Regions from separate parts of the Homo sapiens genome. Here all the other regions are linked to region 2. The links come from fine-mapping of genetic effects on gene expression. A gene starts in region 2. Each other region holds a variant in brackets. All regions are shown on one strand. Distances are between the middles of the regions. Region 1 has its middle 19 kb from the start of KIF12. Region 2 holds the start of COL27A1 (collagen type XXVII alpha 1 chain). Region 3 overlaps COL27A1 (collagen type XXVII alpha 1 chain).

Region 1 (8,175 bases), 38 kb after region 2:
CTGACTCCTGTAAATCGCAGGGGTAGGACAAGGTGGGACTGTCGGCGGCCCCAGAGAGAAAGCTGAGCCTGTGTACTCTGGGGAGGTGACCCGGGGGGACCCTGAGCTGCTGCTCGGGGGCGTTAATGAGCGCTCCATCTGGTGCCATCCTCAACCACTAGCTGACGCTGACACAGCATTTCATCCTGGAGAGAGAGAGCATGTGTGTTCCAAGGCTAGCAAAGGCTCAGTTTTTCCGATCCGGAAAAATCTGTTCAAAGAAGGGAAAATTGAGGATGAGGAGCCGAAGATAGCCTGATTTGTGTTTCCTCAGTCTGTAACTTGAATGGTTCATGGGAGACTATCTCTGTCAATGTGGAGCTGCGGAGACCCAAGCTCAAAGAAGCCTGGGCCCCAGGAGGAGGCCCATGCCAGGGCCAGCATGGAAATGCAACCTTTCCTCTCCCAGCCCAAGGCTCTGACTGTCCTGCCATCCTGCCTCCCTCAGTCAGGGGCCAGCTGTGCCCTTGGCCCCAGTGGAATGTGTACCCTGGAGTTTTTTTGCCCCTGCTTTGGATTTAAGATCTTCCTTTCTCTGAAGCCACAGAGTCAACACATATTTTTACTAGGAGGCATAGTAGGCAGGGCACCCAGAGCCCAGAGCCCTGCCTTAAGAGGATTTATTATCTTTTTCAGGAGACGGGAGGGAGCACAGATGTGAAACCATAAAAATGATCAATGTGGCCAATGCTTACGTGGGACTTGGTGTGCACCAGGCACAGCTCTGATCTAAGGGATGTCCATGTATTAACTCATTTAATCCTCACAACAACCTATAAAGTATTGTCAACCTCATTTTGTAGATGAGGAAACTGAGGACACTTAAGATTGAGTAACTTCTTCTTGACCACACAGCTACGAAGTTGCAGAGTTGGGTCTCAGACTCCCAGGCAGCCTGGTTCTTGAGTCTACTCAACCAAAGAAGACACTCATATGGCAAGTGTTAATCCCTCTGTATCAGGCACCATCCTCAGTATTGGGGACCCAGTGGTGGAAAGAATAGACCAGGGCTCTGTCCTCAAGGGACTTGTCATCCTTCTTTCGCTCACTTATTCATCTACATAGCCACCCATCCACCATCCATCCATCCATCCATCCATTTACCCATCTATCCATCATCCATTCATTTATTTATCTGCCTATCCATCATTTAACCATCTATCCATCTATCTATCCACCCATCTATTCATCAACCTATCCATTATCCATCTACCATCCATCATCCATCCATCCATCAACCCATCCATCCATCATCTATCTATCCAGCCAGCCAGCCATCTACCCATCATCCATTCATCTATCCATTCACCCATCCATTCATCATCCATCTATCTATCCATCTACCCACCCATAATCTGACCAGCATCCACCCATCCACCCATCCATCAACCACCCATCTGTGTCGATTTTTATTCATTATGTATCTCCCATGCTTGGCATAGTGCCTGGACATAACAAGTCCTCAATCAATATTTGCTAAAGGAATGAAGGAATGAAGACAGACTTGGGCCCCGCCCCAGAGCACTGGGTTCTTGTCCCTTACCCTTTCCCAGTCACAGCACCATAAGGTAGTAAATGCTGCCATGACCACCTTATGGGATTCTTGGGAGGCTTTAACGGCAAGTAGGTGAATGCCTTACAAACTGTAAAGGGCTCTAGGGGCATAGTCAGCATCAGGCTACTGAGCTGGTGTGCAGGCACTGAGACCTGCAGAGCTGTGTCTCTCTCCAGTCTGGCTGGTGAGACCTGTCAGACACTTCCCCTCGACCTGCCAAGAGGCCCAGAAAGGAAAGGAAATTGACATTTAATGAGCATCCATGAAGTGCCAGGGACCTTCACATACTTTAACCCTCTCTTCTCTTTTCTTGTACAAATCAAAGAAATGGAAGCCCAGAGAGGTCCACGATTTGCTCAAGGTCACATAGCCAGAGAAGAGCAGAGCCCACATTCTAACCTCGGTCTGTGAGCCCCAAAGCCTGTGCTCATGGCCCTACCTATGCTACACCACTTCTTCTTAAAGGGGATGCTGTCAACTTTTCCCTAAGTCCCCACTGTTCAGGGTCACTCAGCAAGCTCTTGGTAGAGTCTTTTAAAACACGTTTCCATTTAGTTTTTGCATAGATTATTTCCTTTTTGTTTTATGGGACACCCCCCGACCCTCCCCACCCCCCCACCCCCACCCAGCCACCAACTTTTATTTGCAAAGAAAAGCCAGTGTAAATATTCCCTCCCACCCAGGTTAACCCTTGTCTGACAGAGGTGTATTCTGTGCAGCTCTCTGGGGGAAAGGATGAAAGGTCACCCGGGCTTGCCTGGGCTTCCTGCAGGGCCTGTTTGACAGACCCTCGTGATAGTTCACACACACATGTATCTCTGCCGCCTAATGCCATGGGTGGCAGAAACCCCTGATTCTCAATTTACCAGCTTCTTATGACCCTCAGCACAGACCAGCCTTCTAGGGTCCAAGTGTAAAGGAGACAGTCTTCCTGGAGTCTCTACCCTTGCACTGTGGGCTGGAACAGAAAAAGAAGTGCCCTCAGCCACTGTTCCTGGGCCACCCACCGAGGGCCTGGCATAGCACTGGGCACTTCACCAACATCCTCTCACTGAGTCTTCTGGAAAGGAGGGCTTGGTCTCAATGACCCCATTTTACAAATGGTGAAGCTGAGGCTCAGAGAGGCAAAGTCACCTGTCCAAGACCACACAGCTGGCCAGGGGAAAACTAAGCATAAGACACGGTCCTTGCTTATAAGTTGCTTTAAGTCCAGGGCTAAAAGTAAGACACTGTACATGTGAAATGACAAGACAGCCCCTCAGGCCAGGCACTATCTTCAGTGCCGGGAACAATGACCCAACAGGAAACTGGTTGAAGCAAGTCCCAGTTCTGCTACACACTTGCTGAGTGACCTTGAGCTGGTCACTTTCCTTCTCTGAGTCAAACATCTCAGTCTCTTATGCTCTTTCTTATGTAGCATCTGGTAAGAATGTATAAAGTAGGACCTCGTAAGGGCGTGGGAGAAGATGGCTGAGGTTTGTGGAATAGCACAGCATTATGGCTAAGAATTACTACAAAGCCCTCCTCCTACCATATAGAGATCCCCTCCACCAACATCCCAAGAGGCAAATCCCCAGGCAGGAGAGTTAAGGTAGACTGGGTTGGGGGGCTAAGCAGAGGATCTGCAAGCCCTGTGCCAGGCACCAAGGGGAGGAAGGAATGGCACGGGGCATTCCACACCGGTGGACAGGAATTCTCTCTAAGTCGGAACTCCAGCGGCTCCTCACCAGCCCCTCTTCCCAGGCAGCCTTCACCACAAGACCCAGCACCTCCAGTGTCCCCAGCCACAGCCCCCCACAGCACAGGCTCCTCCTGGAGTTGGCTCCAGCTCCAGCAGGCCAGCCATTGAAGGCTCCACCTCACCCCTTTAAATTCTATTTTTTCAAACCACATTCTTGAACTTGGCAGATAACGTGGCAGCCCGACAAGAGCCCTATTTACTCGGAGAGCCGTGAATGGGCCCTTTATAACAAGCTTCATTAATATTTCTACCTATTGGCCAGCTCTCCGTTTCCTCCCCCTATACAAACAGATTCTCCACACAGAAAGACTTTTCAAATGCTCTTGTTGACTTTCCCCAAACAGGGAGGGCAGCTGAGCCGGCAGGGGTGTGTGAGTGTGTGTAAGTGTGTGTGCAGGGGAGGGGGCGGCCGTGGGCTTGCGCCCGCCAAGCCTTATGCAGGAAGGAAAGAGGCCCACTATTCATGGGCAGGGACGGGCAGCTCGGGTGAGTCCAGGTATGCCATGCCTCACAAAGGCATACTCAGCCCAGCCTGCCCCACGAATTCCAGAGCCCTGGCCCGCGGAGGTAGGCCGTCCCTTCTCAGCTCCTGCTGCCTGACCAGTGACCCGAGGCAAGTCCCTGACTTGCTCTAGGCTTCACTGTCTTCTTTTGTCAGTTGAGTCTCTACCTTGCTACTCAAAGTGTGGTCCATGCACCAGTGGTATCACCATCCCCCGAGAGCTTAGGAGAAACATAGAACCTCTACCCAGATTTGTTGTCCCTGAATTTGCATCCTAGTAAGATCCCTGGGTGACTTGTGTGCACTATCGACTTCAAGAAGCATCTGATCCACTCCACATGCCTCCTCCATCACCCCCCTGCCACCACCACTCTAGGGCCCAAAGGCCACAGTGGACCTGACACATCATCGAGAAGGCGGCCACCAAGGCTCTTTTGCTCTCTAGTTCGACACCACAGCCCTGGCCCATGGTTGGGGCTCAGAAAATCAATGAATAAACAGAAAAGTGTATTGTCCAAGTCCACAGCCTTGTGCTAA[C/T]GACAGCAATTCTTCCTCTTCAGCATTTGAGAACATTGTGAAGAACTGCCCGTTCCATTGTTCTGAAGGTCGTAGAGTCTTGGAAGGGACTTTCTAATATTGCAGTGGATGGGGTGAGCTCCCTGTCTTTTGGAGATATGCAAGCAGAGGCGGGAGGACGTGTGATGGGAAGTTGGAGGAGACACCATGCCCCATGTATAAAGAACGTGCCTTTGGGGCAGAGAAAAAAAATCACTGCAGGGAAGATGGTGTCCTCACTGAGCACACCCACAGGTGAAATGGGGGCCTCTTTAGAGACGGACAGACCCGAGTTTCAATGTTGGTGATGCCTTCTTTAACAATGAGAACATGGACAAGGTGGACAAGAGCCTTCACTTCCCTTCCATCTATTCATTCAATAAATGTTGATTCTATGTGTCAAGCCCTCTGCTGGACCTTGGGGACCTGATAGTTCATAAAATAGATTCTTTATTCCTATGGGGAGAGAGACAAACAAAAATCAATAAAAAATAAATATGGGCAGGGCGCGATGGCTCACACCTGTAATCCCAGAACTTTGGGAGGCCGAGGAGAGGGGATCACAAGGTCAAGAGATCGAGACCATCCTGGCCAACATGGTGAAACCCCATCTCTACTAAAAATACAAAAATTAGCTGGGCGTGGTGGCACGTGTCTGTAATCCCAGCTACTCGGGAGGCTGAGGTAGGAGAATCACTTGATCCCGGGAAGCGGAGGTTTCAGTGAGCTGAGATCACGCCACTGCACTCCTGCCTGGTGACAGAGCAAGATGACTCCATCTCAATAAATAAATAAATAAATAAATAAATAAATAAATAAATAAGAATGCTGAGGAGAAAGTAGAGGAGGGTGACAGAGACAAGGTGTGTGCATGGGAGGTGGGGAAAATTATGAGTGAGGGGAGCTAGGGAAGATGCCACTGAAAGGTGACCTTTTACAGTCAGACCTGAAGACAAAGGAGCCAGTCACGTGAGAAGCCAAAGGAAAGGTACCCCCAGCATAGGGACAGCATGTGCAAAGGTCCTGAGTTAGGAAACACTGGGCGCTTTGAAAGGGAGGCAGCGTGGTGATCGCATTCCACACACAAGTGGGAGAGGAACCGTGGGAGGCGGGAATTTCCACCTTACAGAGCTGCAGAGGATGGATGGCACCCAATCGGTGCTCAGAGCAGGATGTGTTTGCTCTTCACTGACCCACAGGTCCTGATCAGAACTGCTGTCTGTTTCCATCTCCCGAGAACAGCAGGGGCAGTGCCTCAGCCTGGGGGCCACGGCCCAGGGCAGGGCCAAGGAGCTGCAGGGGCTGAATGAGCCGCCTGTGTGCATATTGGCTGCATACTCCTGCCTTTTTGGGGAGGGAGTGGCCTGCCCTCTCCTGGGACACCTGCCCAGCTTCAGCTGGCCTGGGTGGCTTGGACAGGAGTTCCTGACCCCCTGCCCAGTTCTCAGCAGCCAAAGGCCAGACCCTCTTGGGAGCACAGAGCCTGCCAGCCGGCTCACACCCTCCTCCCTCCTCCCTGGCCAGCCCTTAAGTACCAGGCTGGAAATAACCGGTTCTCTCCACCCCTTGGGGCCATGGGCTTGCCCACCCTAGGGGCTGAGGTGGCTGGACAGGGAGTGGCGGTGGGCTGTCCCAAGAGAGACTTCTTGGAGTCTTCGCTGGGAGGCTCCCACCCTTGGGTTAGTAGGGAGGAGTTGGTTCAATCCTGGATTTGCTGCTGCCTCTCCATGAGCCCTTCCAAAGCTGCCTTAGCATTCTGAATCTGGTTTTCCTTATCATTACAGTGGAACCGATCACCCCCTCTGAGGGCTGTTGTGAGAATTAAATAACAGATGTGTGAGCTTTGCAAACCGTGACGTACAATGCACACAGAAGACTTTGTGGTCGGGTCGGACAGTTCACTTTGTATTCGAGGTCATGAAAGGACTGAATTCTAGCATCTGGTCCCAACTTCACCTCTTAGCTAGACCACAGCGTTTCTGAAAATCTCAGTGTCCCCAACTGCAACATCAAGATCCTTGTTCCTACCTCAAAAGGTTATCATTAGAATCCAATTTATTCAAACAGTATGTGTTGAACACCTACTATGTACATTGCTCACAGCATTCTAGACATCTGTAGAGGTAGGCCCCCTTTCCTTCTTTGACTTCAAGTAATTCTTTCCAGAGGACTGAAGAGAAGACAAGGATATACTCTTGAAGGTAGACAAAGGACAAAGGAGAAAGGTTCTAGATCTCAGACTTGGTCCCTGTCGTTAGGTGGCTGGTTGAGGTCTTGGTTCAGTCTTTTACTGTCTCTATGAATTTGGGCAGGTTACTTAGCCTCTGCAAAGCTCAGTTTCCCCATCAATAAAGGAGGGAGGATATTGTGAACCAAAAATAAAATTCTAAGCCCCCTGCCCTCCAACCAGCTGGACTCCCTCCTCTGGGTCAAGGCACTCCAAAGTTCACCTGAAAGACTGGTTCAGGCCATAATGGGAAGCAGAGGTCAGACATGCCTCAGTAGCCCTCCTCCCTTTTGGGATTCAGGAAAAGCTGACCCCTATTTAACATCAACGCAGACCTGAAGTCTGATAAGGAACACTTACAATGTATTCTTTCTGAAGCCTGCTGCCTGGAGGCTTCATCTGCATGATAAAACTTTGGTCTTCACAACCTTTTATCATAACTCAGACATTCCTTTCTATTGATAATAACTCTTTTAACCAATTACCAATCAGAAATTTTTTTATTCTACCTATAAACCTGGGAGCCCCCACATGCACTCTGCTTCAAGTTGTCCCGCCTTTCTAGACTGAACCAATGTATATCTTAAATGTATTTGATTGATGTCTCATGTCTCCCTAAAATGTATAATACTAAGCTGCACTCAACCACCTTGGGCCCGTGTTCTCAGGGCCTCCTGAGTGAGGGCTGTGTCATGGGCCATGGTCACTCTTATTTGGCTCAGAATAAATCTCTTTTTAATAATAATTTTCAATTTCATAATAATTTTTAATAATAAAATAAACATTTTACAGAGTTTGACTCTTTTTGTCAATAATATTACACCACAGATGTCTGTTGCCATGGTTTAAATTGTATCAATTGACACAGGGTGCTTAGCTCAGTCTTTGGCCCATTGTGTGTGATTCATAACGTTTGCTGCTATTAGCAGTAGCTGCAAATAGTATGTAGTCATCATTACGGTAGTAGCAAAGTGGTAGTAGTATAAATAACAAGAGAAGCAATCCTGGTGGCAGTACTGCAGTAGAAATACTGGTGGTAATAGAGTAAGAAGTACTATGTTTTAGACCATTTTCATACTGCTATAAAGAGACTACCTGGGACTGGGTAATTTATAAACAAAAGAGGTTTAATTGACTCACAGTTCCTCATGTCTGGGGAGGACTCCGGATACTTATAATCATGTGGAAGGCGAAAGGGAAGCAAGCACCACCTTCACAAGATGGCAGGAGAGAGGGAGAGTGAGCAAAGGGGAAGTGCCACACTTTAAAACCATCAAATCTCATGAGAACTCACTCACTATCAGGAGAAGAGTGTGGGGGGAACTGCCCCTATTATCCAATCAGCTCCCACCAGGTCCCTCTCTTGACACATGGGGATTACAATTCAAGATGAGATTTGTCGGGGGATGCAGTAGAGGCAGTAGAAGCAATAGTAGTAGAAGTACTGGTTGTGGTGGTCATAGTAAGAAGTGCCAGCAGTAATAGTAGAAGCATTGGCAGGGTCGTAGTAAAGGACTAGAAGGACTACGAGAAGACAGTGGCAGCAATACTAGTAG
Region 2 (8,175 bases):
TATTTTTATAAGATGAATTAATATCACCTGATATGACAGGACTCTAGACTTTAAAAAACGGCCGGGCACGGTGGCTCACACCTGTAATCCCAGCACTTTGGGAGGCCGAGGCAGGCGGATCATGAGGTCAGGAGATCAAGACCATCCTGGCTAACACAGCGAAACCCCATCTCTACCAAAAATACAAAAAAATTAGCCAGGCGTGGTGGCGGGCGCCTGTAGTCCCAGCTACCTGGGAGGCTGAGGCAGGAGAATGGCGTGAACCCAGGAGGCGGAGCTTGCAGTGAGCCAAGTTCATGCCACTGCACTCCAGCCTGGGCGACAGAGCGAGACTCTGCCTCAAAAAAAAAAAAAAAAATAGACTTTAAAAAGTGTCTTCCCAAAGCCTTAATTCCCCTACTCTGACTTTTTCCAGAATTGCTCCAAGATAATCCTTGGTCCTTCCTCTTCATCCTCTCCAATCTGCTGCCACTGTTGTGAGAATGCCTTTTCATGGGGCCAGGCCCCCAGCTCACCATGGGCAACGACTAAAGGTCAAAGTGTCAAGCTGCCCTGGGGTTGCCTGGGGAGAAGGGCAGGGCCAACCTTTCTGGCATGACTTGCTTACTTGAAGCAAATGGCAATAGCATGAGCCCTGGAGAGAAATAAAAGGCAGCTTTGTTTAATTACACAAACGGAGAATACCAAGGCTCAGGGAAGGCAGGTACTTCCATCCTGGGCAACGTCTGGGCTCATAATTCTTCAGTAGTATTTCCCACACCCACCAGGGACATGCTTTCTAGGAAATTGGCCAGATACATTAGGGAAGAGCTGTACCCTGCATCCCAGTCTTGACAATCCGGAAAGCACAACTGTATATCAAAGGCTCGGAGAAATCCTGCAATAAAGAAGTTGACTGTACTTTCTGTCATTCAGCAGTCCCCAAATTTAGAATCATTTTTTCCATGAATGCCTCCTCAGAGGAGACTACCCCTTGCCTTCCTGTGTTCCTGCGATCCCATTTATTTCTGTTCCATCTCCTTCCAGCCCCCTCTCTTCCTGGCCCTTGTCTGGCACCTGCCCTCACTCCTTGAGTCCTTCATTGGATTATGTCACATACCAAACTTCCTAGGAAGTTTCCCAAACTGATAAAGAAAGGCGAGGTGGGGAAGAGAAGGTACAAAAACGACACATGTCCTTCTCGGTCAGTTTCCCTGGCTACAGCTATACCAAAATGACTACTCTGCAGAGAATTAGAGGGCAAATCCTTGTAATCTCTGAAAATCAGGAAGAAGAAGTCCACAGGAGACATGGAATCAGAATCTTCTCTTCAATTAAGCTTCCTAACACCATGGCTTCCAACTTGAGGACTTCAGCCCTGAAGGCCTATTACAGAAGTATTCAACCTCCATTCATTCTCCCTGACAAATGCAGCTGACCCTCTTGGAAATGGATTCTGTGTGCACTTGACCCATAAACTTCCCAAGTATAGAGCATGTCAGAGTGGAAGAAGGCCATTTAAGATCATCTAGGGGTCAGATTCTAGTCCTCTCTCTCCCTTCTTTGAAAAGATGCGTAACTGAGGCCCAGAGAGGGCAAGTTACTTGCCCGAAGTCACACAGTGCTTCAAGTCTATGACTTAACAGATAGTCCTTTTCATTTGACTTGTCTCCATGGAGCAGAAATTGGAGACTTGCAGGGACTTCCTACTTGCCAGAGACCCGAGCCCCAGCCTTCACCAGCAGGAACAGAGATGCAACCCAGGGAGCCAACGAGCCATCTAAGTCAGCTCCAGGCCTGGAAAGTTGGCTCTCAGAGGGAGGCCCTGCCGATTCTTTTGCTCCCGTTCCAATCCTGTTTAGGCTACTGCTAATCATGGTTAGTGCCTGTGCTGGCTCAGGGCTTTGTTCTTCCAGACTTCTGTTTTCACCACTTGTCTTGTGGGCCTTGTCTCTGCAAACCCAGGGCTCCAGAATGTCAGGAAGACCAGAGCACAGAGGCCAGGGAGGCCAGGAGGCAGCCGAAACGGGAGCCGCGAGGAAACATCACATGGAAACATCGTCTGGCCACACAGCCCTCCAAAGAGGAAACCCAGGTGTTTCTATGCCCTTGCAAAAGGCCCTCTGCCAGTGCACCAAATGGGGCTACTCCTGGGTAACCACACTGCCAGAACCGGCAGACTGCTTGGATAGTTTTCTTCCATCCTTATTACCTGGAAACACACAGGATCTTAGAAACCCACACCAGCTTCAACAGTCACTGAGGGCTCTGAGCTGAGACCCAGGCCACAGAAACACACAGGGAAAGTGGCCCTGTGGACACTAGGCTTGGCTGTTCACGCATGGGGTAAAAGCTGAAAAGGGAGCTAGCTGGAACTACAGCTCATCAAGTGGGGTGGACCTGTCCCACCTGCCTCCATGGACTGGCCAGACCCCCTGTGCCCAGACGGCTATGCCTGGGCTTTCTTCACAGCTTCCACGTCCTCCATGGGAACACAGACAGGTCATCGTCTGGAGAGGATGCAGCCCAGAACTTTCCCATTGACTCACACACCCATTCAACATGAAGGGAATAATACAAATACCAGCTGCCGTTTACTGAGCACTTATTACATGCCAGGCCCTGTTCTAAGCCCTTTACAAGCATGGTCCTGTTCATCTTCACAAAACCCAGCCAGCTAGGAATAAGGTGCCGGTTTTGTGGAAGAGAAAAACAAGCAGCAGAGTGGCTCACCCAAGCTGGCACAGCAGAGTTAGGATTCAAACTCGAGCCTGCCTGATGGCAAGCCTCATGGCCCTCCTGTGGTGCCGCCTGCCTCCCACCAACATGATTCTGTGAGTGTCTCACTGCTGTCCCCTACCACCAGTGGATATGTTACTCTGCGTAGCCAAGCCAGGCATGTGGGTATCAAGAGGGTCCCTGGACAGAGATGGAGGAGAGAAAATGCCAACAAAGAACAGGGGAGTGTGCTCAGAAAGGGACAGAGACCACCAGGAGGCTGCTGGCTGCTGAGGGTCCGCAGCGCTGGTGGAGGCACAGGAGAGGGAGAATGTTCTGAGTACAGGGAGGAAACAGAAGGAGGCAGAGGCCAGGGATGTGTCCATAGACATGACATGGAGTTTGGTCCGGCCAGAAGGGTCCAGGAGCAGAGGCATGCTGGAGAGCAGAGGCATGCTGGAGAGCAGAGGTATGCTGGCGCCAGAGCGCACATGATGCAGGACAACGTGATGTCAAGGGAGGCAGGGAGGCAGGAGAAGGCAGAGACTGGGCCTCCGAGCAGTGTTGACTGCCCACTTGCCCACAGCTGGAGCCCCACCATGGGGTGCTCGCCTGGCACCACTTTTCTGCCCAACTGCTGGCATCTACCCTGGCGCAGGGTCTTCTGGAGAAAATGAGTCAGCAGTGTGCTCACTGGTGCCGCGCGCGCGTATGTGTGTGTGTGTGTGTGTGTGTGTGTGTTGTGGTGAGGGGGTGCGGGGCGGGGGAATCGCAAACAGCCAGCTTTTTCCAAGACATGGGGAAGAAAGGAGGGGGTGTCATCCCGCGGACTCCAGCTCAAAGGGGGCAGGGCCCAGCTACAGCCCTAACAGCCTCTGGGGAGTGTCCTGGTGTCCTGGGGGCAGGATGGAAAGAGAGGAGCGCCGTCCACAGGCCCCAACGGGCTGCTTGCATGCTGCTGGCTCCCACACACACCCACACGCTGCGCCGGCTCCAGCACAGGCTCACTCTCTCTTACAACTCCTACTCCACACGCTGGGAATCCCAGCCTCTGGGCCCCAGCTCCGCGCAGCCGCTCCTGGGAGAGTCCCTGCCCCTCTCCGGCCCTGTCTCCCGATCTGTACACTGAGGGGTTCCGCACAGTGATCGCCCAGGGCCCTTTCTGCTCTGACATGCTGGCTCTCACTTTTTCTCTCTTACACACGTGAAAGGGACAGGAACCGAGAAGCAGGAAACACAGACACACAGACCCAGGCCGACTAACACAAACACGCGGAGATTTCCAGAAACGCGGGGACGTGCAGAGCCACACAGACACGGAGACAGGAGCAGAACCCGAGACCTGGTGACCTAGAAACTTGCGGACAATTTCACAAGAACAGATAGAAACGGAGACGTACAGGCTTGGGACCTGCAGACACTGAGACACCGGAACACACCGAGACGGCCCCAAACGGAGACCCCCCTCCTCCCCCAAGCATCCAAAAAGCCCCCCTCCGCACCCCGCCGGCCGCTCCAGGCGCCACCACCCACCCCCACCCCCGACCCCCGGGCTGGCTCTGCCCCCGCCCCAACGGGATCGGGCAGCCGGGCCAGGCGCGGCAGGGCGGGCAGCGTTCGCCAACTCTCGCCCGGCCGGGGGCGCAGCCCCTATTAACCCTTGGCGTCCCGCCTCGCGGGGGCGCAGGAAGGGGCAGGAAGCTGACGTTCCGCTGGAAGCGACCGCATGGCGGGGAACCCCGGCCCTCCCCGAGATTGGAGCAGCAGGAAGCTAGGGAGGGGGCGTCCCCGAGTTCGTACTCACCCCCCGCGCGCCGCCGCCGCCGCCGCTGTGCCTCGGGCCCCCCGCGCCGATCCCGCTCCCATGGCAGGCCCCTACTTCATGCTCCCGAGCCCGGGGGGCAAGTGTGGGCGCGCCCCATGGGGCCGCCAGCCCCCCGCCCCGCCGCGCCAGGCCGGCTTAGAGCGCGCGGCCCCCGCGCCCCCAGCGCAGCCCCGCGCCCAGGGGCGCCCGAGCAGGCAGGCAGCGCGGCTGGGGCCCCGCGGGCGCCCGCGCCAGGCCCATGGTCCCAGGAGTCCGGGCGCCGCGCTCGCCCCTGCCTCGGTCCTTTTCTGCTTCCACCAAAAAGGAAGAAGAAGCAAGAAAAAGAGAGAGAGAGATGATCAAACTTTTGGAGGCGGGCTGCTGGCGGTCCCCGGAGGCAGAGCAAGGCCGGGTGAGGGCGCGCGGAGGGCGGTGGAAGCTGCCTCCCCGCCGGCCTGGGGGAGGAGAGGAAAAGGAAGGATTTGGGGGAAATGAAGGCGATTTAAAGTCTCGGCCCGCGGTGGCTCTCCACCTTCCCTCCTCCCCGCTCCCGGCCGCCCTCTGCTGCCCCCTGCTGCCCCCTGCCGGCCGGAGCCAAGGGTACAGCCTCAGCTGGCCCACTACAGCCCCGATGGGACACCCGCCCCCCTCCTCCTTGTATAGATGGGGAAACAGATTCACAGAGAGGAAGGGGCTGCCCAGGGCTTCACGGTGATTTGATCACCGTTCTGAGATTAGGAACTTCTGACTGGTGAGGCTGGGGGTCCTCCAATGGGGGGTTGGGGTAGGGGAGAAGGGCCAAATTCTACTCCTGGAAGAAACCCACAGTTTCAGGGACGGAGCTAGGACCAGAACTTGGTGTCCAGACGCCCACGACAACCAGTATCGTGATCCCCACCGCCCACCAAAAGTTTGCGCTCCCAGACTCGGAGCGCCCTGGAGAACATATAGGGTGGGCTTGTTAAGGGTTTGCCACCCTCTCTCTCCCTTCTGTCAGCAATTGGAATCTAACCGCACCCCACCACCACCACTAACCACGCACCTCCCCAGAATCGACAAAAACTCCCTCGGATCCCATCCGGGAGCTAAGAGCTGCACACCTTGGCCCCCGGGCAAATTCTCACACCCAAAACTCCAGTCCAGCCCTGGGACCACAGCTCCCTCCGCCTCTACCACCTCTTGCCACTCGTTCACGAGCAAAGTTACACTTATTCACCGGTGCACACACACACTCCCACACGTATCCACCCTTTCCCCAAACTCAGACACACGCTCACACACGGTCCCATTCTGGGACAGCCACGCACCCTTCCTAGGTTCACACGAAACGCATCCTCAGATATCTGGGCTCAGGCGCACGCTGATACTCTACACTCGCAGAAGCATGCACACGGATGCTTACACAGGCACAAATGCACGCTATCCTGGCCATATCGCCCCCACACATGTACACACCCCGGGTGGACACACGCGCGCACACCCTCACTTGCACACAGTTCTCCGAGAGTGCCCACCGCACATGTGCACACACGCATTCACTCCTCACGCGTGTACCCACCTCCCCATACGCGCACACCTTTAGGCGCGCGCACACACAGGCATATAACACTTCGCACCGCTCCAGGAGCCCCCAAGCACTTACTGGGTCCCTACGTGCGAGGCTGGCCGGTCGGTCCTTCCTCCGGCGCCTAACGGCATTTGTATTCATGGGTCCCCGCAGCCGTGGGCGCGGGGGCGGGGGGCGAGGTCCCCTTCCCTAAACGGGGCGCGGGCGCGCGGAGCGCAGCGGCACCGGGAGGGGCATGGGCGCGCGGGACTGCGCCGCCGACCCGGTCCGCCTGCGCTCGAACTTCGGCAGCTCTGCGTCCACGGGCTCCGGCGCGGGCTCCGAGAGCTGGGGGCGGCTCATAGGTGCTGGGGCGGCGGCGCCCGCCGGGCCTTTTGAAGTCTCCGCTGGGGGCGGGGAGGGGGCGCTGAAGGCGGCCTTTTAAACCCTGGCTGCACGCGGGCTCGGTCGAGCAAGGTGTCTGGTTTCAACAAACTTTAGGAAAAGTCCCAAGCCGAGAGAGGGGAGGTAGGGGGGTTGGGGGAGCTGCATAGCTGTGCGCTGCTTCCTGCAGAGGGCAGAGCACCCATGGCTGCCAGGAGGGAGGCCAGTCGCGGGACTGGGGAACTGGCAGGCTGCTGGCCGGCGCGTGGAACCACCCCCGCCACCCCCGCACCCCCAATGTTGAACCAGAGTTCTTAACTTCCATGTGCACGAACCCCAGGGAGTGCAGGAACACCCCCAAACTGTGCACAAATTGAGCATGTTTGTGCATTCTTCAGGGGAGAGGGGCCGTGGGCTTTCCTCCGGTTTTCAGAAGTCCACGGCCCCCTAAGGTTGAGAACTCCCTCTTCAATCATAACTGATGTTTTTTTAGTTGCATACTTGGTACCATGCAGACCCTGTCTTTATTTACATTTTAGATATTTTGTTCATTGTGGGGTTTTGCATTAATTTTGATACTTTTAAAAATATTTTAAAAGTAAAAAATTAAAATATTATTTTGATTACTTAGGGGTTTGGGGCACTGCTTTGGGCAATTTACCTCCGTTGCTGAGTTTTCTTGGCATCTCCTGGTATGCTGCATCTCTGCATGTGCCACACCCTAGTCCAGACCCTGACCCACACAGTGCTGGGGTTTAAGGGAGGCCTGCTTTTTTCTCTCCATTTACAGATGGGAAAGCTGACATAAACGGGTAGGTGGTAGAGGTGGGATTTGAACCCAGGTAACCTAACTCCAAACTTCTGCATCTTGTCATAAGGATCCAAATCTTAGGCTTTAAGGGGTTCTGTGCAGATCCTCAGCAGCCTCCCCAGCTTCAGATCCGGCCTCCTGAGCTCCAGTCTCTCTGATACCTGCACCCAGGCTCAGGTAAGCTTGACTACTTCGATGCTTTCTCCATACTGTTTCCTCCCAGGTTCTCCCTCTGCCCCTTTTCTGCCTGTTCACAACCTGGTTATTCTTCTAGGTGCAGGCCAGAGCTCACCTGACTCTGGTGAGCTGCTCTGCCCTACACCGGGATTGCAGCACACATCACATGGCGCTGTCATTGTCAGATCCATCTCTGTGTCCCCACACCCAGCCTGACACATGGAGCCTGGGATACAATAGATGCTCAAACCGTTGGTAATTTAAATAAGTTATTTGTTTTAACTCCTACAGTATGCAAACCCCTGTACAAGACTCTGGGGGAAAAGGGTCTGCCACTGTGGGGGCAGGGACAAAAATTTCCATATGGTCCTGCCTTCTGGTCATGCACGCATTTGTAATGTGGACAGGAGACACGCACAGCAACTTGGGGTAGGGAAGAGAGTCTGGATGGGAGACATCAGACATCACTATGTCATGGAGAACCCCCTGCAACTGCATAAAGGTAAGATAATATAAGGAGAATGTGATAAATGCCACCAAAGAGATGCAGATCAATTGAATTGTGAAGCTGATTAAGGGATGGAAAGAAACCGAGGAAGGCCCCCAGGAGGAGGTGGCATTTGGATCTTAAAGGGTGTGTTGGATAAATGTGCAGCCACAGAGGAGAAGGACATCTCCGGTGAAAGAGTCACAAAAAGACCAAGAGGACAGAGTTGGATTTCAGGCAGGTTTTGAAGGAGGATTGAGGCGGTGGGG
Region 3 (8,175 bases), 21 kb before region 2:
TCCAGAGACCACAGAGCACCTGGGAACACTGGACCCAGAGAGTCCAGGAGGCTTGATCAAGGTCATACAGCAGATTTGTGGCCAAGTGAGATCAGGGTCCAGGGCCTGGTGGCTTCAAGTCCAGAGTTTATTCATGGCGCTGGATTTTCCCAGGCCATATCCAAGTTCCCCGATAACAGCTGGGTCCTGTTATGTCCACTTTCTCCAGCAAGGGCCCTGGCCTAGAGTCTTCCAGCACAGTAATATAAATAGAGCCCTAAGAGCCGGGGAATACTTGAGGGTTTTTGTCTAGCAGGAATAATCTGGGGCATAGGAGGTGAGGAGAGGCACCCTCAAGGGTCCAGTGGTCCTCCCAACCCCACCAGCCTCTAGGCACACTGCCCTCTTCCCCGTCCCTCTTGATTCATCGGGCTAACTGTGTGTGAACTGCTTTCTTCTTCCCTCTCTGAGGCCAGCTTCCCAGCTGCAGCCTGTCACATTCCAACCAAGGCACCTCCCTCTTCCTCTCTTCCTTGATGCCTGAACTGGGACCCTCCCCTTCTCCGAATGCACCGGCAAGGAACAGTGTCCAGAGCACACTGAGCCTGGGGAGTTTCTCAGTGCCTCTTGTGACCCTCCTTCCAAAATAATCAGCCCTCCTGCCCTCCCCTGCAGTCCACCAAACACTGTCTCCTGGCACGCGACAGAACCTGGAAGCATCGAGACTGAGTCCCAATTCTGAGCCCCACCTCATAATCCCCAGCCTCGGTCTCTCCCTCTGTTCTGTAAGTGACTGGGACCCAGCAGTCTCTAAGGAATCTGGAACACCCTCCGATGTTCACCCCAGCCCAGGCTTGTGGGGTCTAACCAGGTCTAACCACAAGCTCAGTGGGAATTGGACAGAGGTTGGGAGGGAGTGTTCAAGGAGGGGTTCCTGACACCCAGTTCCACCAGAGCCAGGCGTAGGCTGCACAAGGTCAAGGGCGGCTGCCTCTCCCCAGTCGTGCCCCAGCTGCCCCACAGATGGTGGGCCAGAGCACTCAGCTCCCCCATCTGCAGCTTCTGAAGGTGGGGGCTTCCTGTTTCCCTGCCCCCCCGTCCCCAACCCTCTCCAGTATTGCAGAGAAACGAGGCACATAGTTGACTGAAAGCCAAGCAGACCAATTCTATAAATGCTGCAGCCTAGAAAGCCAGGTGGGGGAGGCTCTGGGATTCCCCAACATCCCTCCATGGGCTGGGGGAATATGTGGAGGTAGGAAGGGGCAAGACAGAGAGCTTTGGGCGACCTCAGGTAAGAATGCCCCTCCTTAAGCCCCAGAGCCCCCATCTGTGCAGAGAGGAGCTGGGATTGTTTAATCCAGCATTCTATTATCTTTGGAATTTTATAATCTATGGAATTTCCAGTCTAGAAACAGGATGATGGTGGGACGGCGGGCAGGGAGAGTTGGGGTGGCGTGCAGGCAAAGAGCCTAGAAGCGTGTCAGGAGAGTCATTCACCCAGAGCTAGGTGGAAACTTAGAAATGCCTTACCATGACCCCAGCCTTTATAGATGGGGAAACTGAGCCTAGAAGGACAGAAGGGACTTGCCTAAGATTCCACAACTTCTTGGTAGAAATATTCTTGACTCCTACATTAGAACTCTTCACCAATCATTTGCCCAGCACCTCCAGCACGCAGGGTGCTCTGCCAGGCATCACGTAGGAGAGAGAGGTAACCGAGGCCTATCTCTGGAGGGGCTCAGGTGAATACTCAGAAAAATAAGCACAATAGATGCTTAAGATGGTAGGCTCTGGGCTAGGCGCAGTGGCTCACACTCATAATCCCAGCACTTTGGGAGGCCGAGGCAGGTGGATCACTTGAGGTCAGCAGTTTGAGACCAGCCTGGCTAACATGGTGAAACCCCATGTCTACTAAAAATACGAAAAAATAGCTGGGCCCGGGGGCGTGTGCTTGTAATCCCAGCTACTTGGGAGGCTGAGGCAGGAGAATCCCTTGAACCTGGGAGGTGGAGGCTGCAGTGAGCCCAGATTGCTCCATTGCACTCCAGCCTGGGAGACACAGCGAGACTCTGGCAAAAAAAAAAAAAAAAAAAAAAAAAAGATGGTAGGCTCTGGAGGCAGACTGCCTGGGTTCAATCCTGGCTCTGCCATTTACTCTCTTTGACTTTATCTGAAGTAACTAAACCTTTCTGAGCCTCAGTTTCCTCATCTGTAAAATGGGAATAGATTGAAACCTGTTTCTCAGAATGGCTGGGAAGGTGGAATGAGATCCTGCACATGTGGCTCAGCAAACAGAGTTTAGTGGTCAATGAGAGCTTTGAGAAAGTGGCCCATGCCATCCAGAGGGGACAGGGGAACCACTGCGGGAGTTCCAAGAAGGGAGTGGTCATCAGAAATAAAGGTGGCATTTGCTCTTAGACATGAATGGAGGACAAGTTTACAAAGGAGGACAGCCAGAGCAAAACCGCAGAGGCTTGGGGGCTCAGGAGGTTGGGGAAGGGAGTAGGCTGCCTAGGTCAACGGCCTCATCCTGGTCCCAGGCTGCAAGGTCCCATGGGCTAGCAGCGTCTGTGATATCTATGTGGTCCCCAGAGGGCACGTGCTTCATGAAGGCTCTGAAGCCAGGAGGAAATGCCGCTTCAGATGGCAGATTCCAGAGCCCTGGGCCCAGGGAGCACAGGGCCAGGTCTGGAGGGAACTAGGGCTTGGGTAATTGCATAACCAGAACCACTCGCTGGGCTCAGAGCTAAAAATATGCCCCAGGCAGCTACCTCTGCCAGGGCCTCACCAGGCACCCAGCGTGGGAAAGGCTGATTCAGCCTGGGCACAGATGCCGGGTGCTGTTGGTCTCAGCCCTCTAAGGGAAGCAGGTAGGTTTCCCTCTAAGGGGATCTCCAAGGGTTCCAGTATATGGGTAAGAGCCTGGGTTCCAGTCCTGGTTTTGCCATTTCCTACTCAGTTTCCTCATCTCTAAAATGAGAATGATCTCACTGTCCCATGGGAACTTGGGGTGGGCATGAGAGGTCAAATAAGGCAGCATAAAAGAAGGTGCCAGGCACATCACATAGGAGCTATTTTCCCTCTCGGGCTTGGGCTAGCTCAGTCAGCCACCGCAGCCTGCCAAGCTGTCCCCCAGCCTCTCTCCAGCAGGAGGAACTCAACTCCTCCCCGCATGGCCCCTCCAGGTACCTATGTCCGCACCCCTACTCCAGGAGAGCCCTGCAGAAACAGGAAGAGGGATGCAAGGGTCATATATTCCCCAAGGCAGTTTTCCTGGCCAAACACTGAAGCTCACCAGCCGAAGGGATGTGATCTTCTGGAGCCCCTTCCCCACCCCAGGCTGCAAAGGGTGATATCCCCAATGGACAACTGAGACCTACAAGAGGTCATTGCTGTTCCATGCCATATCTGTCCATATAGCACCCTTGAGAGCCCTAAGTCCACTCCAAATGGATAAAGCCAAATATGGGTGCCAGAGAGGGGGAGGGAAGAACCTGAGGACACACAGCAAACCCGAGACCTCAGGGGCAGTGAGACGCAGGCCAAAGAGCCACCAAGAGTTCCAAAGGACAGTGTGAGATAACTCACCCGAGGCCCACGTGCACCAGGGATTCCAGGTAGCCCAGGTAGCCCAGGGGGACCCTGAGGAGAAAACAAGAAGACAGCATTAGACAGTGCCCACTGGCAGCAGAGAATGGGCTCAAGCAGTCATTCAACAATCCCGCCTGCAGCTGTGGGCATGGATAGTCCGCGGCTAAGAGGAGGAGTCCCCTGAGGTCCCTGCCCTGAGAAATTCATGCTCTTTGGGGCTTTTGGGCTTTCATAGCTACTATTCAGTCACTGACGCCCTCATCATTTATCACCCAGCTAACTTAGGGTGTCACCTTCTCCAGAAAACCTTCCCCAAGTTGGACAAAGTCCCTTCTTTTCCTCTATTTTAAAGACCGCTATCTTACTTGGGGAATTATCTGCTTAGAAGCCTGTGTCTCCCATCAGATGACAGTCTCCTCAAAGGAACTAAGGGGATATGAGTCATCTGCCTATCCCCAGGGCTCAGCCAAACGTTTGATAAAATAAAACAGCCAGAAACCTCAGAGCTCAGCCAAATTCTCTGCAGAATCAGAACAGAGAAGGGACTTGGCCAAGGTCACACCAAGTATCTCTGCCCCACAAACAGGCAGCACAGCACACAGAGCATGGCATGGGTTTTTGAATCAGACATGCCTGGGTTCAGATCCCTGCCTGCCGCTGACAAAATGCACAAGTCTTTAGCCAGCTTGTGCCCATACAAACGGAGGCAATAAAACACTCCCCATGGGATTCCAAGGATGACATGAGAGATGATAAATGTTAACACGGTGCCTGGTATGTAACTGGCACTCAAATTTTCTATCTGTTCCCATGGCCACAGCATGGTCCAGCCTTCATCACCACTCCCCAAGAACCGGCAGCAGCCCCCTCAGTGGTCTCCCTGCCTCTACTCTCTCCTCCCTCCCCTCTGCAGTCCTCCTCCACACAGCCTCATTCACCTTCCAAAAGCCCTCCCCTGCTCAACAACATTTAAGGGCTCCCCATTTCCCACAAGTGAAAAA[C/T]CTAACCCTGAAGCTCAGCATTTAAGGAGCATCTGTGTGTCCTCATCTCTTTTCTCTTTACACAGGAAGGGAGGCAGCCGAGCAGACTTACTGAAGGATGAGCTGATCTTTGTTCAAATCCTGGCTTTACCACTTAATAGCTGCACACTTCCTGCAGTTCCTCCCACTTATCTGAGTCTCAGATGCTCCCCGTTAAGATGGGTCCAATAGCTACCACTGCATTTACCTCGAAGGAGTAAATGAGGATTAACTAAGCGCCTGATGTGAAGAACTGTGCCTGCAGCCTTTGAAGGAAGCCAGGCTTTCGAGGATGTGTGAGGCCTGGGGAATTCATTTGTTTCAAATAACCATCAATGAGATTCCAGATTTCCTGCCCAGAGTTAAAATCGGTGTTGAAAACCCAGTCTGGTTTGGCTGGTAATTAATCCAGATCTCATGCTGGGCAGTCTCGGCTCACAGTTCTGGCCTGTGAACACCACGTGCTTGCTCGTCCATGAATAAAAATCAGAGGAGAGATCCAGACAGGCAGATATGGGTACCAAGGTCACTGGGCAAGAGCCCTGAGCAGAAGGAGGAGGGTCTGTTTTGTGACCTCGGGCAAGTCCCAGCTACCTCTGAGCATCCAGAGACCTCTGGCCAAATTGGCGGCAGAGTTCCAGGGGTGGGTAGAGGGGTTGTCTGGTTTTGTGGGTTCTGGACTCTGGGTGCCAGTCTTACCCACTTCTCCTCTCCAGCTGTCTCTGGGCAGTAGAGTATGGTGTAACACCACGGGCCTGGGTTCACATAGGGCACCCCCCCCCACCCACCTACTATCTGGGTGGCTTTGAGCAAAGCTATTTCCAGGCTCCAAGCCTTTTTTCTATTACTGTAAAATGAGGTTAATAATAGCACCTAGCCGACAGATAATCTATAACAAGTGCTAATCCTGGTGTCTGGCACCCAATTAATGCTCAAAAAAAATGTTAGCTGTTATTTCTGTGAAGCAAGCTTCTGGAACGTCCTCAACTCAAAATTTTAAGCCATCCTCCTTCACATCTGTTTCTAGGGGACAGCAAAAGATGTCCCTTCTTAGAAGGCCCTCCTTGACCCAACTGTCCCAGGTGGACCCAGAATTAAAGAAAAAGCAGGGGGCTGAGACGAAGCATACTGTAGGTATACCATGCCGTTTCAACAGGTAAGAAACCAGAGAGAGGTTCAGAGAGGAAAAGTGACTTGCCCAGTGCCACACAGCTAACAAGAGGCAGAGCCTGGATTCAAACCCAGGACCACTGGACCTGTTCTCCTACCCTGGGCAGCTGCCACACAATCTTGGTTGAGTGTGACTCTAACTAGGTATATGGCCTTGAGTAAGTCCCTTCTCTTCTCTGGACATCTGTGAAATGAAGATCCTGGAAACTTCCTGGCACTGGCATTTCCTGAGTTGCGGAAAGCCAAGGTGGGGGTAATTTCCTCTGCTACATTATCAAGTGAAGAGGAAAAGCGAGATTCTTCCCATCTCACAGAGAAGGCAAAGACCCAGCAGGGTGAAGGGCTTGTCCAGGACTCCGGGGAGGAACAGGCTCCGTGGGTGCAGCTCCTTCATGGACCCTGGTGGGGCTGCAGCTGCAGAGGCCTGGACACTCCCTCTTGGCATGTCTTCTGCCCCAGAAATAGGGGCATCCAGGATAGAGTCTGACCTCATCCACCACATCTGCAGAGCAGACTCTGAGTGCCACTCAGGACCCAGGGTCCAGCCTGGTGATGTCAGCCCACAGGCGGACTCCTTGACGGGGCGGCCCCAGCTTCGGGCCTGGCCAATCCCTTCACTCCACCTTCAACCTGGGTGGGGACCGCCGGCTGCCCAGTGCTAGCCACGGGCTGGACCCTCCCCTACTCAGTGCCCACTTTGCTCGTGGCGAGCACGGGTGCCCCCTGGCCCCTCTCCCCTGATCCGAGACCCTGCCTGTTCTCTCCGCAGTGGAAAAACGCTGCCATTTCTTTCCAGGGCCTGAAGCCTGAGCGGGTGACTCTGGGATGATTCACGAGGCCGGGGTGGGATTTTCCACTTTGCGTTGCAAACAACGGGGCCTCTGAGAGGGCCTGGAGCTGAGGGGGAGCAGAGCGGGGGCTCAGGCCTGCCTGGGGGAGGTGGAGGAGGCCTGGGCTCCAGGCGTACGCAAACAGAGCCATGGAAACAACCAAGCAGACCCCTCGGGGCTTCCCCCAAGGGTCCTGGCCTCTGACAGCCAGATCTAGGGGAACCCCATCCTACGGAACAAGTCCACCGTTGTGTCCAGCTGGAAGAGCCTCTGCCTGCCAAGCAATGAGAGGTTTTACAAGCCTGGGGTTTAGGAGACCAAAGTCCGATCCTAGGTGTGCTGCTACCTACCATGTGACCCTGAGCAATGTCCTTTTGATCTCTAGGCCTCGACTCTGTGTCTGTAACCTGTTGGGGGTAGATAGGGGGCCTCAAAGGGCTCTCCCATCTCTGACCATCTGAGCTCATGATTATTCCTAAGAATTCACACAGGGCACCCAGACTTCCCTAGCCTCTGTCCTGGGAAGGACCTGCTGGAACAGAGCTTCTTGGCATCAGTACAGCTCTGTATGACCTTGAGCAAGTTACTTAATCTCCCTGGGCCTCCGGGCCTTAGTTTGTCCAGCTGTGAAATGGGAATGTAATACCCATATTCTGAGATGGCATATGCATGCTGGTTCTTCTCCATTTACTCCCCAGATCTGTGCCGTGCCCTGGGAAGCTGACTTCTACAGATTATACCCCGGCCTTCCTTGACCTCTGGCTTCCAGCTGGGTTTGGCCAATGGGAGACCCCAGGAAGAGAGTGCACAGAAGGGAGGACAGGGTATATTTCTCTCCCTGTGCCCTCTCTGCTGTGCTATAATTTGGCTGCAGCTGTATTCGCCCATGGCCCCTGCTTCTGTGAGGAGACCCCTGCTCAAGGTTTTAACTCTTATTGGGTTCTGGGAACATCTTTCCCTGGGACCTTCTGGTCTGGGTGTGGTAACAATTTCCTGCAGTTTCCAGGCCCCTTGTGTTTCACCTGCCTCTGCTGGTTCCCTTGATGCTGTCCACCCCTCCGTAAATAGTCTGTTCCTTTAACTCTCCCCAGTGAGTCTGGGCCCTGCCTGGAGGTCAGGAGATCGAGACCATCCTGGCTAACATAGTGAAGCCTTGTCTCTACTAAAAATACAAAAAATTAGCCAGGCATGGTGGCACATGCCTGTAATCCCAGGTACTTAGGAGGCTGAGGCAGGAGAATTGCTTGAACCCAGGAGGCGGAGGTTGCAGTGAGCTGAGATCGCACCACTATACTCTAGCCTGGGCAACAGAGCAAGACTCTGTCTCAAAAAAAAAAAAATGGGGGCAGTCCTCCCCCAAACCCCCGCTGTCTAGCTGACATGTGTCATGACACTCTTATCCATTCAGGCTCCCTGCTGTCCCTGCTCCACCGACTAACCCCAGGTTAGTATTTTCATAGCACAGTTCTCCAAGCAAATGTGAGACTATGTCCAGACCCTCCCAGTTCTCTCAGTGCACCAAAGTCCCCACCTCAACACCCACCATCAGTCCACAATCACAGCCATGACAATCTACCAGGACCCAG

What was found.
Region 1: its variant is fine-mapped to the expression of COL27A1 in tibial nerve (GTEx, PIP above 0.99).
Region 3: its variant is fine-mapped to the expression of COL27A1 in sun-exposed skin (GTEx, PIP 0.99). The same link has a PIP of 0.9 or more in esophagus mucosa.

What each region holds. Positions count from the first base shown.
Region 1 is chr9:114,113,925-114,122,099 of GRCh38, reverse strand. No RefSeq gene overlaps it. Among named protein-coding and RNA genes, the nearest start is that of KIF12, 19 kb to the right of the region's middle. RefSeq lists an enhancer at 2,137-2,431. The variant C/T (reference allele first, on the strand shown) is at 4,375.
Region 2 is chr9:114,152,339-114,160,513 of GRCh38, reverse strand. COL27A1 (collagen type XXVII alpha 1 chain) reads right to left here and starts at 4,977. Exons shown (of 61, transcript NM_032888.4): 1 at 4,502-4,977. The coding sequence starts at 4,563. LOC105376225 (a long non-coding RNA gene) reads left to right here and starts at 6,246. Exons shown (of 5, transcript XR_930256.3): 1 at 6,246-7,419; 2 at 7,517-7,674; 3 at 7,827-7,921. RefSeq lists silencers at 3,811-4,105, 4,993-5,112 and an enhancer at 6,649-7,170.
Region 3 is chr9:114,173,737-114,181,911 of GRCh38, reverse strand. It overlaps COL27A1 (collagen type XXVII alpha 1 chain), which reads right to left. Exons shown (of 61, transcript NM_032888.4): 4 at 3,568-3,621. Among named protein-coding and RNA genes, the nearest start is that of COL27A1, 22 kb to the right of the region's middle. The variant C/T (reference allele first, on the strand shown) is at 4,572.